Regions from separate parts of the Homo sapiens genome. Here region 1 is linked to region 2. A link means that fine-mapping ties the variant in region 2 to the expression of a gene that starts in the linked region. Tissue or cell type: whole blood. Region 2 holds a variant in brackets; the other region holds the start of a gene. All regions are shown on one strand. Distances are from middle to middle.

Evidence for each region. PIP is the estimated chance that this variant, and not a neighbour inherited with it, causes the effect.
Region 1: RHOXF1 starts here. The variant in region 2 is fine-mapped to the expression of RHOXF1 in whole blood (TOPMed, PIP above 0.99). The same link has a PIP of 0.9 or more in adrenal gland, blood mononuclear cells, ileum, prostate, thyroid and tibial nerve.

Annotation. Positions count from the first base shown.
Region 1 is chrX:120,111,342-120,119,448 of GRCh38, forward strand. It overlaps RHOXF1 (Rhox homeobox family member 1), which reads right to left and starts at 4,572. Exons shown (of 3, transcript NM_139282.3): 1 at 4,124-4,572; 2 at 1,528-1,573. The coding sequence starts at 4,521. All of the region lies in intron 1 of RHOXF1-AS1 (RHOXF1 antisense RNA 1), which reads left to right. It overlaps LINC01402 (long intergenic non-protein coding RNA 1402), which reads right to left. Exons shown (of 3, transcript NR_126557.1): 2 at 6,521-6,570; 3 at 6,301-6,368.
Region 2 is chrX:120,083,907-120,092,013 of GRCh38, forward strand. The region is part of intron 1 of RHOXF1-AS1 (RHOXF1 antisense RNA 1); the gene reads left to right. Among named protein-coding and RNA genes, the nearest start is that of RHOXF2B, 10 kb to the left of the region's middle. The variant A/G (reference allele first, on the strand shown) is at 4,740.

The DNA of each region.
Region 1 (8,107 bases), 27 kb after region 2:
CACTCAGTAACCCGCTTTGTTAGTTTGCTTTTTTGGACAACCCACTACCAGATCGGCAGTGCATTTCCCTCACTACACTCACACATGCACTCTGCATAAAAGCTAATAATAAGGTCATCCTGATTTTTGTTTTTTCTTTTTTGGGAAAACATCACTTTGATACTATGTATGGTTTTCTTTGGTCTTAAGTGGTCATCACTTGAATCCTATGACCTACTAATTAGTTAACACTGCTTAAAGGAATGAAAAGTATTTGAAATTAACATGGGTGTGAATCTACCCTAAAATGAGGGCCACCTCTCCAAACAAATTCCAGAAAACCCACCTCTTCAAAAAAGTACCACCAAAAAGAAATATAAATCCTTAGATGGATAGAAATTCCTCAAGAGAACAGTCACTTAAACATTTAGTAGTTTCATAATGTTGAATTTGTATAGTACATGCATAGTATGTGCAAAGCCTATTTTGACCATATTTCTCTCTAACCTTTTCACCCTTCTTGGTCAACTGAAATGAATTCAATATTACTCATTTTGTTTGCTTCATTCTTTAGACAATTTTCCAAAGCATACAAACCTTACAAACCTTCCTCAATTTCAAAATAATGTGACTATTTTAGCAATATTTTCAGGTTGACACATCAAAGTATTTTAGAAAATTAAAACTTAGGGCTGCCACTCTCTATACTGCTTTACCAATAACTTAAAAACAAACAAAGAAGGACCAGGGGCTTGGACATATAAGCTATCTTCCCATCAGTCTCAGCTTAACTAAGTATACATTATTTAGTCATGTAATGTGTTCTGTGGGTGAATTACTCCCTCATCCCAATATTTATAAATTCACTCATTTAGCTAAGTGTTTATGCCTGGCCTTAAATAATTTAGTACACTTGAACCCTCTTATAACCCTGCTCCTCCCTGCATTAACTTGAATACTTCTAAGGTAAGACTGAACCCCACCATGACTCTACACAGAAATTGTTCCTAAAAGATACCAGCGTTAGAAGGAGTTGAATTTTATTTATTGGATACATACATATATGTATATATGTATGATATATATACATATATGTATTATATATAATACACATATATTATATATAATACACATATGTATAATATATAATACACATATATGTGTTATATATAATACACATATATGTATTATATATAATACACATATGTATTATATATAATACATATATGTATAATATATGTGTTTCATATGTATGTATTTGTTTAATTTTGTATACAGATTAGGAGAAGCAGTTTTTGTTTTGTTTTTCCTTTAGGAAATCATATTCCCTAATTGGAATGGGAAAGAGGAAAGAACCATAAGCTGGAGCTTACTTCCTTTTCTACCGACAAGGAACCCAAACTTCAAAACTTATTTGTCAACATAAAAAAGACAATAATAAAAACAACAACTTTAGAACGTTCAGGACAAAGCCTTCAAAGCCTTCAATGCCCTGAAGCAGGTTTTAGAATGGCTGTCCTCTCAAATTGCTTTTTCAAGTGTACTGACCCGCACTTTGTCTTCAGTCACACCTAAGTTTTCGGCAAGTTCCCTTCTGTGGAGAGAAGATCACACATGGTTAGTATTCAAAGTTGTGGATGAAATGAAATATATAGTATGTACTATTTACTTCATGCTTGTTTTACAATTTATAATCTCCCCTCACACCTCCCCCAAGTATATACTTTTCTCTAATTCCCAGCTCCATGGTTGCTTTAGAAATGGTTTACCCTCATCACGAAATTTAAGGTGACGTTAACAACTCAGTAATCAAGAGAAATACCTTTTTTTTTTTAAATTGAGACAAGGTCTCACTCTGTCTCCTAGGCTGGAGTGCAGTGGTGTGATTTCAGCTCACTGCAACCTCCGCCTCCGGGGTTCAGACGATTCTCGTGCCTCAGCCTCCCGAGTAGCTGCGATTACAGGCACATACCACCATGCCCAGTTGATTTTTGTATTTTTAGTAGAGATGGGGTTTTGCCATGTTGGCCAGGCTGGTCTCGAACTCCTGCCCGTCTCAGCCTCCCAAAGTGCTGGGATTTGGGGCATGAACCACCGCACCCGGCCAAGATGAATAATTTAATGCATTATTATTATTTTTATTATTATTATTTGAGACAGGGTCTCACTGTCGTCTATGTTGGAGTGCAGTGGCAGGATCACTGCTCACTGCAGCCTGCATGTCCTGGGCTCGAACGATCCTCCTGCCTCAGCCTTCCAAGTGGCTGGGAGTACAGGCACACACCACCACACCCACATGGCTAATTTTTTAAGTTTTATTTAGAGACGGGGTTTTGCCATGTTGCCCAGGCTGTTCTTGAACTCCTGGACTCAAGCAACCTTCCCACCTTGGCCTCCCAAAAGCGCTGGAATTACAGGCCTGAGCCACCGTGCCTGGCCCTAATGCACTATTTTAATAAATAACAATTAATGCAAAAATCTGTGATGAGGACCAGGCACTGTGGCTCAGGCCTGTAATCCCAGCAGTTTGGGAGGCCGAGGCAGGCAAATTGCTTGAGCCCAGGAGTTTGAGACTAGCCTGGGCAACACGGCGAAACCTTATCTCTACACACAAAAAAAATACAAAAATTAGCCAGGTGTGGTGGCCTGTGCCTGCAGTCCCAGCTACTCAGGGGGCTGACACGGGAGGATGGCTTGAACCCAGGAAGCAAATGTTGCAGAGAGCTGAAATCGCACTGCTGCACTCCAACCTGGGCCACAGAGAGAGACTCTGTCTCAAGACAAAACAAAAAAACCAGAAAAACAAAAAACCAACCAAACAAACAAAAAAAAACTATGATGAACAAATTATCAAAATTTTAAATAAAGGAAGGATCTAGCACTGTAGTTGCATGACAGTACCTCATTCTCCTTACCCCAATTTCAATAAAATTTTATTTATAAAAACAGACCACAGCTGGGTGTGGTGGCTCACTCCTATAATCCCAGCAACTCAGGAGGCTGAGATGGGAGGATTGCTTGGGTGACAGATCCCCCACTCAACAAAAACAACAACAACAACAAAAACAGGCCATCATCACAGGTAATAAAAGAAAAAATACATAACTTGGACTATATCAAAATTTAAAACTTCTGTATATCAAAAGATGCAATGAACAGAGTAAAAAGACAACTCATAGAATGGAAGGAAATATTTGCAAATCACATCTGATAAGGGGTTAATATCCAGAGTGTATAAAGAACTCCTACAACCCAATAACCAAAAAAAAAGAAAGAAAGAAAGAAAAAGCCACTCAGATTTTAAAATGGGTAAAGGACTTAAAGAGATATTTCTCCAAAGAAGATATACAAGTGGCCACTAAGCACATGAAAGGATGCACAACATCACTAATCATTAGGGAAAAGCAAATCGAAACTACAATGAAGTATCACCTCACACCCATTAGGATGGCTATGTAAAAAACCCCAGAAAATAACAAGTGTTGGTGAGGATGTGGAGAAACTGGAACCCCCATGTACTGTTGGTGTGCACCTGTATCTATAAAATGGAATATTATTTAGCCTTAAAAAGGAAGGAAATTCTAATATATGCTGCGATATGGATGAACCTTGAAGACCTTATGCTAAGTGAAATAAGTCAGTGACAAAAATGCAAATACTGTATGATTCTACTTACATGAGATACCTAGAGTAGTCAAAATCATAGAGACATAAAATAGTAGAATGGTGGTTGCCAAGGGCTGGGGAAAGGGGGAAAAGGGGAGTTGCTTAACTGGTATAGAGACTTAGCTTGGCAAGATGAGAAGAATTCTAGAGATCTATTGCACAACAATGTGAACATACTTAACACAACTGAACTCTATACTTAAAAAGTGGTTTGGACGGTAAATTTCATATTTCCGTGTATTTTACCACATCTTTATAAAAGGGAGGCACGGACTAGTTTCCAGGTTTCATTCACATAAACATTGCAATAAAACATTTACCTTGATGCCCAGGAGGTAAATATCCCCCTCCACACCAGCACAAAGGCAGGCAAGGACCCCCAGTGGCTTTTTCCTCATGATTGGGTGGGGCAAGGGAGAGAAAAAGATGCCTCGAAACGAACTTGGAGATCTCGTGGCTCCTGGAGCAGGCCACTTACCTTGTGGGCACATCAGGGTATTGAGTGTGTCGGAAAACACTTTCCAGCTCCTCCACCTGCAACAGCGTGAACTTCGTGCGCCGAGTTCGTGGCTGCATGTTCTCGGGCTGCGGACCCTCCATGGCCGCCTGGGCCGGCTCCTCCGGCGGGGGCTGCGGCTGCTGCCGAGGCTCCTGGTTTCCACCGCCGCCCTCGGGGATCATGCCGCCATCGCGGTTCATGCCGTTCTCGTGGTTCACACCGCCCTCAGGGTTCATATTACCCATGAGGCCTGGAGCTCCTTGGCCAACATGGCCTTCTGCGCTTGATGCTGCCCCCAGCTGAGGTGTGGGGCTTATTTTTACCTGGTATACACTCAGGCAGTAGAACACGGTGTCGTGGACGAGCGAACGCGCCATGGCTGGAGCGCTGCGCCCCTGCACAAACTCCGTGGCGTCTGCAGCTGGAGTGGGGGTTAGAGGGTGGAGCTAGTTCCTGTTCTCATGCTTGGTATTGGTTACAGTTGCAATGAGTGGGACTTGCTTATGCGCACAAGCAAGAGAGGGAATGGAGAGGAGTGGGGGGATGGGAAGTTGGGGGGTGCGGGTGGGGAGTGGGGGTGTTGCAGGTGGGAGTGGGGGGTTGTGAGTGTGGGGTGGGGTGCAGGTGGGGATGGGGGTGTGGGTGGAGGGTGGGGGGTGCACAGTGAGGGTGGGGGTTGCGGGTGAGGGTAGGGGTTGTGGGTTGGGGTGGGGGTTGCCGGTGGGGGTACATGGTGGGGGTGGGGGTAGCGGGTGGAGATGGGAGGTGTGGGTGGAGGGTGCGTGGTGGGGGTAGGGGTTGTGGGTGGGGGTGAGGGGTGTGGTATGGGTCGTGGGTGGGGGTGGCAGTTGAGGGTGGAGTGGGGTGGCCAAAACACAGGGGCAGTGTGGAGAAGAAAAGGGCCAATAGGAGGCATATATGTATGCAACATGGGGCCCCAGCTTGCAGCTTTGCTGACTACACCCTACTCGGGCCTAGTTATTACCCTGAGGAAAGCTGATTTGGGGGCTCAGAGGGGAGGTGAGATCTCACGGTGACCATAGGACGCCTTGAGTAAAAGTTTGGAGAATATCTCATGGCCTGACCCTCCATATTTGGCAGCATGCACAGGGCGCGGGCTATTAATTAAGCAGAAATGATTGACTGGGGGCTGCTTGTTCAGAGTTCCAGCAAAGGCACTGAAAGCAGAGCTGCCATGCTCTCTTCAGTGCTGGGATCGGGATCTTGGAGATGGGCATGCAGAGCATTCTGGGTGGTAAGATGTGCTCTGCAAGAAATCTAACGCACCCTTTGAGAAAGTCAACACAGAATAAACACGAGGCTGAATCTGTTAGCCTGAGACTGAATATCTTTGGCTATGCAAGAGAAACCTGTACTCATGGCAAAATGGAGTGCTATAAGGACAAGCAAAAAATAAATAAATAAATAAAATCGGGGATGGTATAGGAAGAGCACCAGTAAGGGCATACCTGCCAAAAATCTCCAATCTTGGGATGGAGATTTGGGATTTAAGGATATGCAGCTTACTGGATGTGGGGCCACTTCTGCTCCACAGAGCCTTGTAACTACACAGCCTTCCTACCACTGACCCCAATAAGCCCAATTACGAAGAAAAACCCTGAAGAGCCTGGTGCAGTGGCTCCTGCACTAGTCCCAGCTACTCAGGAGGCTGAGATGGGAGGATCACTTGAACCCAGGAGTTTGAGGCTGTGGTGAGCTAGAATCACATGGCAGCACTCCAGCCTGGGCAACAGACAGAGGCCCCTTTTCTTTAAAATAAATAATAAAATAAGAAATAAAATGAAAATGAAAGAAAGGAAAGCGCTAAGAGAGTCTGTCATGAGGAAGGGCATGGAGATGTCTTTTGAGGGTGGACAACTCATGAATCCTTAATTTTTCTAGAGATTGTGTGTGTGCTCTTAAGTGATGTTATATACTTTATTTTGTTTTTTAAAAATATTTTTAAAAATTTTATTTTTAAATGTTCTTTTAAAAACTTTCTGTATCTATTTATATCTATTGGTTATTTGAGGTTTTTTTGGCAGCATATATAAATATGCAGACCCTTTGAGTCTGTAGCCTACCAAGAGAGATAGCTCTCGTCTTCATGGTGATTCTGAGCATGGAAAGGCCCTTGCACTTGGCAGCATGACAAGGACTAAGCCACTCGCTCCATTAATTGACTGCCATCCACTGGGCTAAGTGAGATCCTTGCGTTCTATCCCTAGTGAGAGAAGAGAGAGGAAGAAGAAGAAAAATAGAAAGATAATAAGAAAATAGAAAAAGAAATGAATAAATGTACATTGTGGGGAGCAGGAAAGGACTACCAGTAATGGGAGGCATCAGCTAGGAGCACAGATCCGAAGCATGACTCACTGTGTGTCCTAGGACACTGGATGAATCTATCTGGTTCTCAGCTTCCTCACCTATAAAATGGAGATAACAACAGTGTCTCGATCATAGGGTTTTCATGAGAGTTCAATGAGGCAAGGCATACATGTAACTGAACACAGCTCCGACTGCTCACCAGTTGCAAAGTCCAGTGAACAAGAACGACGTCTGGTAGAAAGAAAGTGGCTTTATTCCAGAGCTAGTTGAGGGGAAGTAGTACAGGCTGCCTTGAGGAAGCCACTAAAGCCTTTGGGGCAGAAGGCAGGAGCTTTGAAAGTGGGGCTTGGCGTGAATGGCATGCAGGGGAGAGGGCGATGAAGTGCAGAGTCTATGTGACTTGCTTCGGATGTCTTATCTATCAGGTGGTCTGGCTGGCACCGTCACGGGCAGAGCTAGGTTGTAAGTTGAGGCAATCTCAATTTGCCTCCTGGTAGGAGAGAGTTCTGGAGGTTCCTGGTTTGCTTTAAGGTTCGGTCTCTGTAACTTCTAAGTAAACATGTAGTTAGATAAGCTTGCTGTGTAGGGAGTGTCTGGTGGAGAGAAGGTAAAGTTTATAATTGCATTCCCAAAGAGCTAAGTAGGAGGTGTGAGGAAAGGAAAAAGGAAAAAATAATTCATTTGATTCTTTAAAAAAGAGGTACTTGGTTATATATAGACTGTTTTATTCTTTTTCTTCAACTCCAAATAGTCAATTTATCAGCAAATCCTGTTGACTCCGCCTCAGAAACACATTCCCAAACCTTTAATTTTTTTTCTCTGACATGCTTAAGATAATCTCTATCATCTTAAACCTGGGATATTGCATTAGTGTCCTGTCTCCCTGCTTTCACCTTTTTTCTCCTATAAACATTCTCCACCCAGCAGCCAGAGTGATCTGATGATGAAAATGTGAATTACACCATGGTGCCCCTGCTTATCACCTTCATACTGCTTGTTCTTGGGTTGGGTCCAGAGTAGGTACTTAATACATGGTAATGCTTATTACATTATTATTTGCTCTGGTATCTAGGAATAAGATATATTAGGCCAAGGAAGAAAATCTGTCTGCTGAGTGAAAGACACACTCTCCTGGCACATTTCCTGGCCCAGGGCTCATACATGCAGCAACCAACATAGGCTTATTGATGGAAGCACATATAGGTACATAGAAACATGGTACGTGTATTGTTTTCACAAGAAGATGCTCTATCTTTATTACATGCTGCCAGAGGAGAACAATCACTCTCTCTCCCTTGTGAATAAAAAAATATGAAAGTGAGTCAAGTAGGAAATGTGAGGCTGCATGGTCATTTGTGAAATTGTATAATTAAGCACCTCAATTAATCCTCAAAACACCTCTATGAATTAGGTATGATTGTTATCTCCATTTAAAAAATTATTAAACCAAGGCAAAATGAGAATAAACTGCTCACCAGATTAGCCAGCTAGCAAGTAGTGAGTGAAGCCATGATTCAGATACCTAGTCTGGTTCTAGGGTCACTGCTCACATAAATCTGTTACATCAGGCCGTGATTTGTGGCTATTTTTGCTTAGGATGAGGGTTCCATTAGGTACTTAAGGTTTTCAAGAGTG
Region 2 (8,107 bases):
TCCTGGTGGGGAAGGCCTCAACCCACCCTGAGAAGGTGCAAAGAAACACTAGCATATACCGGTAACCTCCTGCTCAAGGCAACTCGGTAAAGTCTACAAGCAGGTTCTCACAAGGCACAGCTCCCATTTCCTGAATTCCTGGGGGTCGAATAGGTCCTTGTTTTGGCTTATTCCAGACACAGGATAGACATTATTCGCAAACAGCATGGGTGATGGCAGAGAGCCGTGGCACATAGAAGTGTTGACCTATCAAAGTCTCTAGTTTCCAGTGTGTGTTCTTTGATGGATCTGCTTCACAAACCTTGAGGCTATTGTCTCTGGGACGTCTAGTCTCCCATCAGAGAACAGCCACCATCCACCTTTAATATATTTCCCTGTTTCCAGAACAAAACAAGCTTTTTCACTCGAAGAGTAAGGGGGTACCTCCAGCAAAGGGGGCTCTATAAGGAGAGGCATTGCTAGAGTTCTTTCTTCAGGTGAAGCCTTGCTCATTGCTGCCTGCCGAGCCTCTTGGTCTGCCTTTCTGTTGCCCTGCACCTCATAGCTTTTCCTGATTTGGTGTCCTTTGCAATGAATGACAGCCACCTTCTCCGGAGCCCATACGGCTTCCAATAATTGCAAAATTTCCTCCTTATTTTTTATTTCTTTTCCTTCAGTAGTCAAAAGTCCTCTCTCTTTGTGTATTCCCCCATGGGCACGCAGGGTTGCAAAAGCATATTTTGAGTCAGTACATATGTTTACTTTCTTCCCCTTGGCCAATAACAGTGCTCTGGTTAATGCTATTAATTCAGCCTTCTTAGCGGAAGTCCCAGAAGGTAAGGCTTGAGCCTCAACCACTGAGTGTTGGGTCACTACTGCATATCCTGCATATCTCACCCCATCTGTTATGAAACTGCTACCATCAGTGAAGTATATAACATCTGGGCTCTCCAAGGGGGAATCTCTGAGGTCTTCCTGGCTCGAGAACACTTTGTCCACCATATTTATGCAACAGTGGGGAAGGTCCTGCCAGGAGTGAGGCAACCCAGCATCCTTCCAATCGGGTTCCTCCACAGGCAGCAGGGTAGCTGGGTTCAAGGTATTTACATTCTCTAGTGTTATCTGGGGATTTTCACATAGAAGCCCTTGATACTTTAGCATTCTAGAGTTGGACAGCCAACCATATCCTCTTTGCTCCATTAAGGTGACTACGGCGTGTGGCACTGAACTATTAACTTCTGACCTAGGGCTAGCTTGTTGGCATCTTCTATAAGGATTGCGGTAGCTGCCAATGCCCTGAGGCAGTGGGGCCAACCTAAAGCCACCAAGTCCAGTCTTTTGGATAAGTATGCTACCGGCCGATGCCAAGAGCCCAAGAACTGAGTTAAGACTCCAACTGCCATTCCTTGACATTCATCCACATACAAAAAAAGGGCTTTTTTACATTTGGCAACCCTAGTGCCGGGGCCTGGATGAGAGCTTCCTTTATATCCTTGAAGGCCTTTTCCTGTTTCTTTTGCCATAGGAGGGGCTCTCTTTCCTTTCCTTTTATAGCCTCATACAAGGGCCTTGCTGTAAGGGAGAAGTTTGGAATACAGATTCGGCAGAATCCTGCCACGCCTAGAAATTCCCTGGCCTTGTAACTGGGGTGGGCAGTGCACATACAGCCTCCTTGCGTGCACTTAAGCCTGCGCTGGCCTTGGGATACCATGAATCCTAGATATCCAACCTCCTGAAAACAGACTTTTGCCTTGTCCTTGGACACTTTATAACCAGCTTCACACAGCACGTGAAGAAGCCTCTCTGTTCCTTGGAGTCATTCCTCCCTCGTGGGGGCGGCAAATAGGAAATCATCAATGTGTTGTAATAGCACATAATTGTCACTAGGTGGCGCAAAAGCCTCAAGATCTGTAGCCAAGGCCTCCTCAAAAATGGTAGCATTCTTAAACCCTTACGGCAGCCTTGTCCAGGTATATTGCGATTGCCCCCTCTGACTTTGGGGAGCAAGCTTCAAACAAAAGAAGGCATCCTTTAAGTCCAGACATGTGAACCAAGTGGCATCAGCAGGAATCTGTCCCAACATTGTGTATGGGTTGGGTACTGTTGCATGGATAGCGACAGTGGCCTTGTTTACCACCCGGAGATCCTGCACTGGCCTGTATTCCCCATTTGATTTGTGCATGGGTAACAGAGGAGTATTCCATGAGGACTTGCATTTTACTATAATCCCATGTGTATAAAGCCGATTCAGATGCTTTTGTTATTCCATCAATTGCCTCCCTGGGTACTGGGTATTGACGGACTCATACCGGGGCAGCATGAGGGTTAAGCTCTGCTACCACTGGGGGTCTGTTTGCAGCAAGTCCAGGGTATTATCCTCGGCCCATACACCTGGTACCTTGAAAAGCATCCCCCATATATTGTGTAGGTCGGTTCTGGTGACCTTCTGGCACACGGTTCACACAGCCACCATTCCTCAGCCCTTGGGACAGTTGGAGTTCATACCATTGCCTTGGACTTTCCAAACTCCAGTGTCATATTCCCTTTAGGCGTAAAGAAAATTTCTGCCTGCAGTTTCTGGAGTAAGTCTCTCCCCAGCAAGGGCACTGGACAATTTGGCATATACGGAAACTCATGCTGCACTTCTTGTCCCCCAATAACACATCTCCTGGATTTGCAAAAAGGTCTCTTTTTTTTGGCCCCAGTAGCCCCTACAATAGTAGCACAGTTCTTTGTGGGGAGGCTAATTGGGTGAGTTACCACAGAGAAATCAGTACCAGTATCGACCAAAAAAATCCATTAATTGACCCCCTATTTCCATAGAGACCATAGGCTCCCCGGGGCCTAAAAAGATGGAGCCTGGTCTGTCTCAGTCCTCAAAATTCTTGGCCCCTGCTAAGCCAATCAGATCAGGATCTGCCCTTGATGCACCATGACTAGCAACCGAATAACGCACTTGGGTGTTAGACCATTGACCATCATTTCCATCCTTTTCCTTTTTGGGTCACTCATCTTTCCAGTGGCCCATTTTCCTGCACTTTGCACATTGGTTCCTGTCCAACCAAGATTGGCTTTCCTCTCCTGGTCTTGTCTGCCCCCTTCCTCGACCTCTGCCTTGGCCACGCCCTCTAGCAAATTCAGGGTTACTTTCTGCTAGTGCAGCAGCTATAAATTGAGCCATCTCTGTTCCTATATCTGGTTTTTCTTTCTTCCTTTGGTTGGGCTGCCTGAGCCACTAATGCCTTATAATATCTCTTTAGACAGGGCTGTAGACACTTGGGGTGAGTTTGTGCTACACTGAGCCAAGAGTCTATATAGGGAAACTGGTCTGGGTATCCTGGTTGTCTTCCAACTCCGGTGACCACGTTAAACACACGGCCAATTAATTTTCTGTCTATTGTACCTTCAGAGGGCCACCCCACATTGAAAGCAGGCCAATCTATTTCACAGTATGTCCTTAACTTTTGAGCATCCAGTTTCATCCCATAATCACCTCTAAATCCTTTTTTAAAATTCTTTATCACGCACTCCAAAGGAGTTGGCTTCGACACTTTTCCTCCCATTTCCTCCCTTGCAGTGCACTTTCCCTCTCACTTTCACTCTCAGATCCACCAGACCAGGTCCTTTTATGGGAGTTTCAGACACTGCTTAGCCAGGAATGTGCCTTCCCCTGTCACAGCCTGCTGTGGCTGTGAAACTGGTCCCATTGGCCGTATGCGGCATCCTAGGTCTGATTTCTTCCACGCTCACCTTGGAGTACACAGCCTGCCCTAAGGGATCTGTGCCTCCTCACGTTACTCCCCGCATTGGCCTCTCCCAAGACCATCTCTTTCATACACTTTCACACACCTCCCCTGCCCAGGACTCCTCATCAGACGAAACGAGCCTCTCTCATGTCCTGGGTGGGTTCACACACACCCACACACTCCCAGTTCCTGTCTCCAGATCCAGTAAACCACTTTCACTTTGTTAATGGGGACACGAGGTTCATCCAAATTAGCAAGCCTCTCCTGCCACCCCCAGCTGCTCTGGGTTGGATTAGTGGTCATTCCCTGGGAGGTGATCATCCTTATGGGACAGGCTTCCCTGCCTTAGGCACTTGCTCCTTACTACAGTTCCTGAAGTGCTGGCATCGTCCTGCAGCCCTGTTCCTGGTTCTGTTGCATTGCCGGGCAGTCTGCTGGGATGTGGGGAGAGCCAGTCTCTGTCTGGGTGAAGCTCCCCTGTGGCGTGCCTTGGATGCTGGGTCTCCCCAGCCCTGGGGCTCTAGTCCCCCAGGCAAATGAGACAGTAAATCTGTTGTCTCCAATCCCAGGCGAGTTCCCAGAAATGTTACGAGATTTTTAAGGAATCAGAGAGACCAATGGGGCTCAGGAGGATATTTATTAATTATTTAGGTGCACTGGTCCAGTCGGATTAACATCCAAAGGACTGAGCCCTGAACAGAGTTAAGTTACCTTTTAAGCATTTCGTGGGTCGGGGGAGATCTGTGCAGAGGAAAGTATACTACAGAAGTGAGAAACAAAGGCAATTGAGACATGCATTATATCATTTTTTACTTTTCAAGGAAAAACATGTTTTGCAACTTGAGTTTTTCTGTCTAGTGACCTTGCAGCTGCACAGCTAAGGAGACAGGGTCTTCACAATGCCTGGGAAAGTGGGAGAGATAAGGCTCACTAGCCACAGAAAAACAGGCAGTTAATTTTAAAGGACTTCAGCTCTTTCTCTTTCTTAGGGGGAATTGGGTTTTCTTACATACA[A/G]CTGAGTTTCTGCTTGCACACTCTTTAATTTCTTTTAATTCCTGTTCCATACATACACTGGAATATTCTTTTGGAATGTGTTCTTCCTTTTCTTTCTAAGGGATACAGGCACAGAAATTTGTGGCCTATAGCTGACTGTCCTGTTGAGAATTACTGAACTGAACTGAGCTGGTTGAGAACTTTGTTATAACTTTCACATTTTATTGTACTTTTGACAAAGGGCAAAAGAAAAGTTAAGTTCTGTGTAGAATAAACCCAAAGCTATGTTTGCATAATCTTATCAGTTGTTTTGTATGTTGGCAGATACTATCTTTACTTTCAGAAAACACAGAGAGATCAATTATTATACTTGATCTACAGAGTGCTCAGATAATATAATAAAGTAAGTATGTGATTTCTACTATGATCCCAAAGAATTATATTCACAAAGGCAGTAGATAAAAGGTAGGGAAAACAATGAGAACATCCAGTATTACTTATACAAGAAAACAATGTGATTTCCCATGTGTTTAAGAGTTTCATTGGGCCGGGCGCGGTGGCTCACGCCTGTGGTCCTAGCACTTTGGGAGGCCGAGGGGGCGGATCACGAGGTCAGGAGATTGAGACCATCCTGGCTAACACGGTGAAACCCCGTCTCTACTAATGGTACAAAAAATTAGCCGGGCGTGGTGGCAGGTGCCTGTAGTCCCAGCTACTCAGGAGGCTGAGGCAGGAGAATGGCGTGAACCTGGGAGGTGGAGTTTACAGTGAGCCGAGATCACGCCACTGCACTCCAGGCTGGGCGACAGAGTGAGACTCCATCACACACACACACAAAAAAGAGTTTCATTGATACATTATGTGCATCTTCTTTTGTGCCACTTACCACATGGTTACATGGAGGAGTGTTTTGTTTAGCATATACATTTTCCTTCTCATGCTAATGTATTTTGTTTTTAGAGGCTAAAAAGCAGTCAAGGTCCAGGGAGCCCACTCTTTTCTTTTACCTTACAGACCTTGGTGTTTGCGGTGGGTCTATAGGGTAATCATAGAGTTTTCAGGCTAAGCCTGTAAGAGTGGTCCACCGTAGATATGACCTTGGACCTGACTGGAAAAGAGAAAAACATCAACATCACCATCAGATATTCAGCCATTAGAGGAACAGCTTTGCCACAGTATTTTAGTTCTGCACAAGGCACTATTCAATGAGGCAGTCCACTGTGTGGCAAACACACCTGTTCAAGTGAGGCTGGATTGTTCTGAGAGGTCTTAAGATTTCATGACTCTCAAGGATCTGCCCACCTGGGACTGACCAGCACAGTACTCAGGGTCTATGGACTTCAATGTTGGAGGATGGACCTCAGCTTGGTAAAATCCTGGGCTATAACCACCTCCTCTTGTAACCAAAAAGCAGGTTAATTGGACTTAGAGTCCAATTAACAAGAGCAAGGCCTTGTACAAGAAAAGTGAATTTATTTCCGAAGCTAGCTAGGGGAAGGGGCATAAAGTGTCTTGTTTTAAATGTGATGCTTCACCTTTGTAGCAAAAGTGAAATCTTTTCTAAGTTGACCAGAGAAGTGAGCAAGGGCAGGGGGTCTCCCTGCTACCCTGGTTTCTTATCTACCAGACAGTTGAGTTGGTGCCTTTCTGGGCAGAAATAAGTTGTAAAAGTGGCTAAATGGAAAGCATGCCCTCCTGAGGTGACCCTCTGGAGGTGGGATTTCTGTGGGGACATGCTTTGATCTGCACTTCAACTATCAACTCTAGAGGAGAGCTCCATCTTGGGGCACACGGATGAACTTGCGCTGTAGGGAAAGTCTGGTGACTGGGAGGAGAGAGGTTATTTTGCATTTCAAAAAGGGCTAAATAGGAAGCAGGGGGAAAGGAGAAAGGAGAAAAGAACAGAAAAAAATAATTAAACTACCACTTAGAAAAATGGGGGTACTTGGTTACACTCTTATTTCTGAGGTCAGTGTGGTGCCCTTTATCTTGAAAGGATTTAACTTCGGCTATAGTTGCTTAGAACTTACTAAATCTAACTTTGAATCATATTTTAAGTTAGAAAGTATTTTGCTGTCCCCTGCTTGGCCTTTCTAGTTATCTTTTCACATGAACATGCTTTATCTTTCCAACTAGGTTGTGAGGATGGAAACATTAGTTCATTCAGCTTTTCTTCCCCATAGTGCCAGACACCTAGGTACTTTAAAGGTGTTGACAAGCTATCTACTGGCTGAGTGGCTTATTTGAGAAAAATACAATGTCAGAATTTCACCTGCACTTCATTGCTGGGAGCCATCAGCTTGCTAGACGTAGACATGAAGAGGAGAAAGCATGAAGAGAATGGGCAAGGGGGAGGAGGGAATGAGGGAAGAAGATAACTAAGGGATGGTGTAATAGGGAGGGCAGAGAAGAGATGGGAGAAATTGAGTTGTATGACTTCAGAGCAAGTGTCCTTAAACATAGGGCATATTAGGAAAGACTATGCCCCCTTAAAGTTTGGATGGAACCTAAAATCTGTACACTTGTCAGCTAAATTGGTCTCCTTTGATAATATTGGCAACATGTGTCACGAAGATTAGACACAGAAATTGGAGAGATTGTAAGAAGTGTGCAGAAAATATTTCCATGGAAGATCCAGCCTAGTTGGCAGCCTCAGGTAGGATCATAATTGAAATGCTAGAATGTTACAGTAGGCATTGTTCCAGGGCTAAAACTTGTTATTCATAACTTCAACTCTAATTTTATTCACTTGAATTTTCAGAGTGCAGCTGTAAGGGGCCACAAAAGGTTCCCTGGCTTAGTTGCTATTCTGTAATTACATGTAAAGCCCTGATCAACTTCCCGAAAGCCTGTGCAAGGCTTTTCTTTCTTTCTTTTTTGTTTTGTTTTGTTTTTTTTTTTTGAGACACAGTCTCGCTCAGTCGCCCAGGCTGGAGTGCAGTGGCTTGATCTCCGCTCACTGCAAGCTCCGCCTCCTGGGTTCACGCCATTCTCCTGCCTCAGCCTCCCAAGTAGCTGGAACTACAGGCGCCTGCCACCAGGCCCAGCTAATTTTTTTTGCATTTTTCTTTTTTAGTAGAGACTGGGTTTCACCGTGTTAGCCAGGATGGTCGCGATCTCCTGACCTCGTGATCCGCCCACCTCGGCCTCCCAAAGTACTGGGATTACAGGCGTGAGCCACCGCGCCCGGCCTGTGCAAGGCTTTTCTTGAGAGCATGTGCTGAGACAATTTTTTATTTCAAATCACAGAATTAAGAATTATGTCATTGGTTAGAAGGGTAGAGCATAACTTACATTAGTATATTTGCAATGACGTATTTGCTTTCCTGAGGTAGTGTGAGGAATAAGAAGGCAATAGATATTCATATTTCTGAGTGTACTTTTATAAA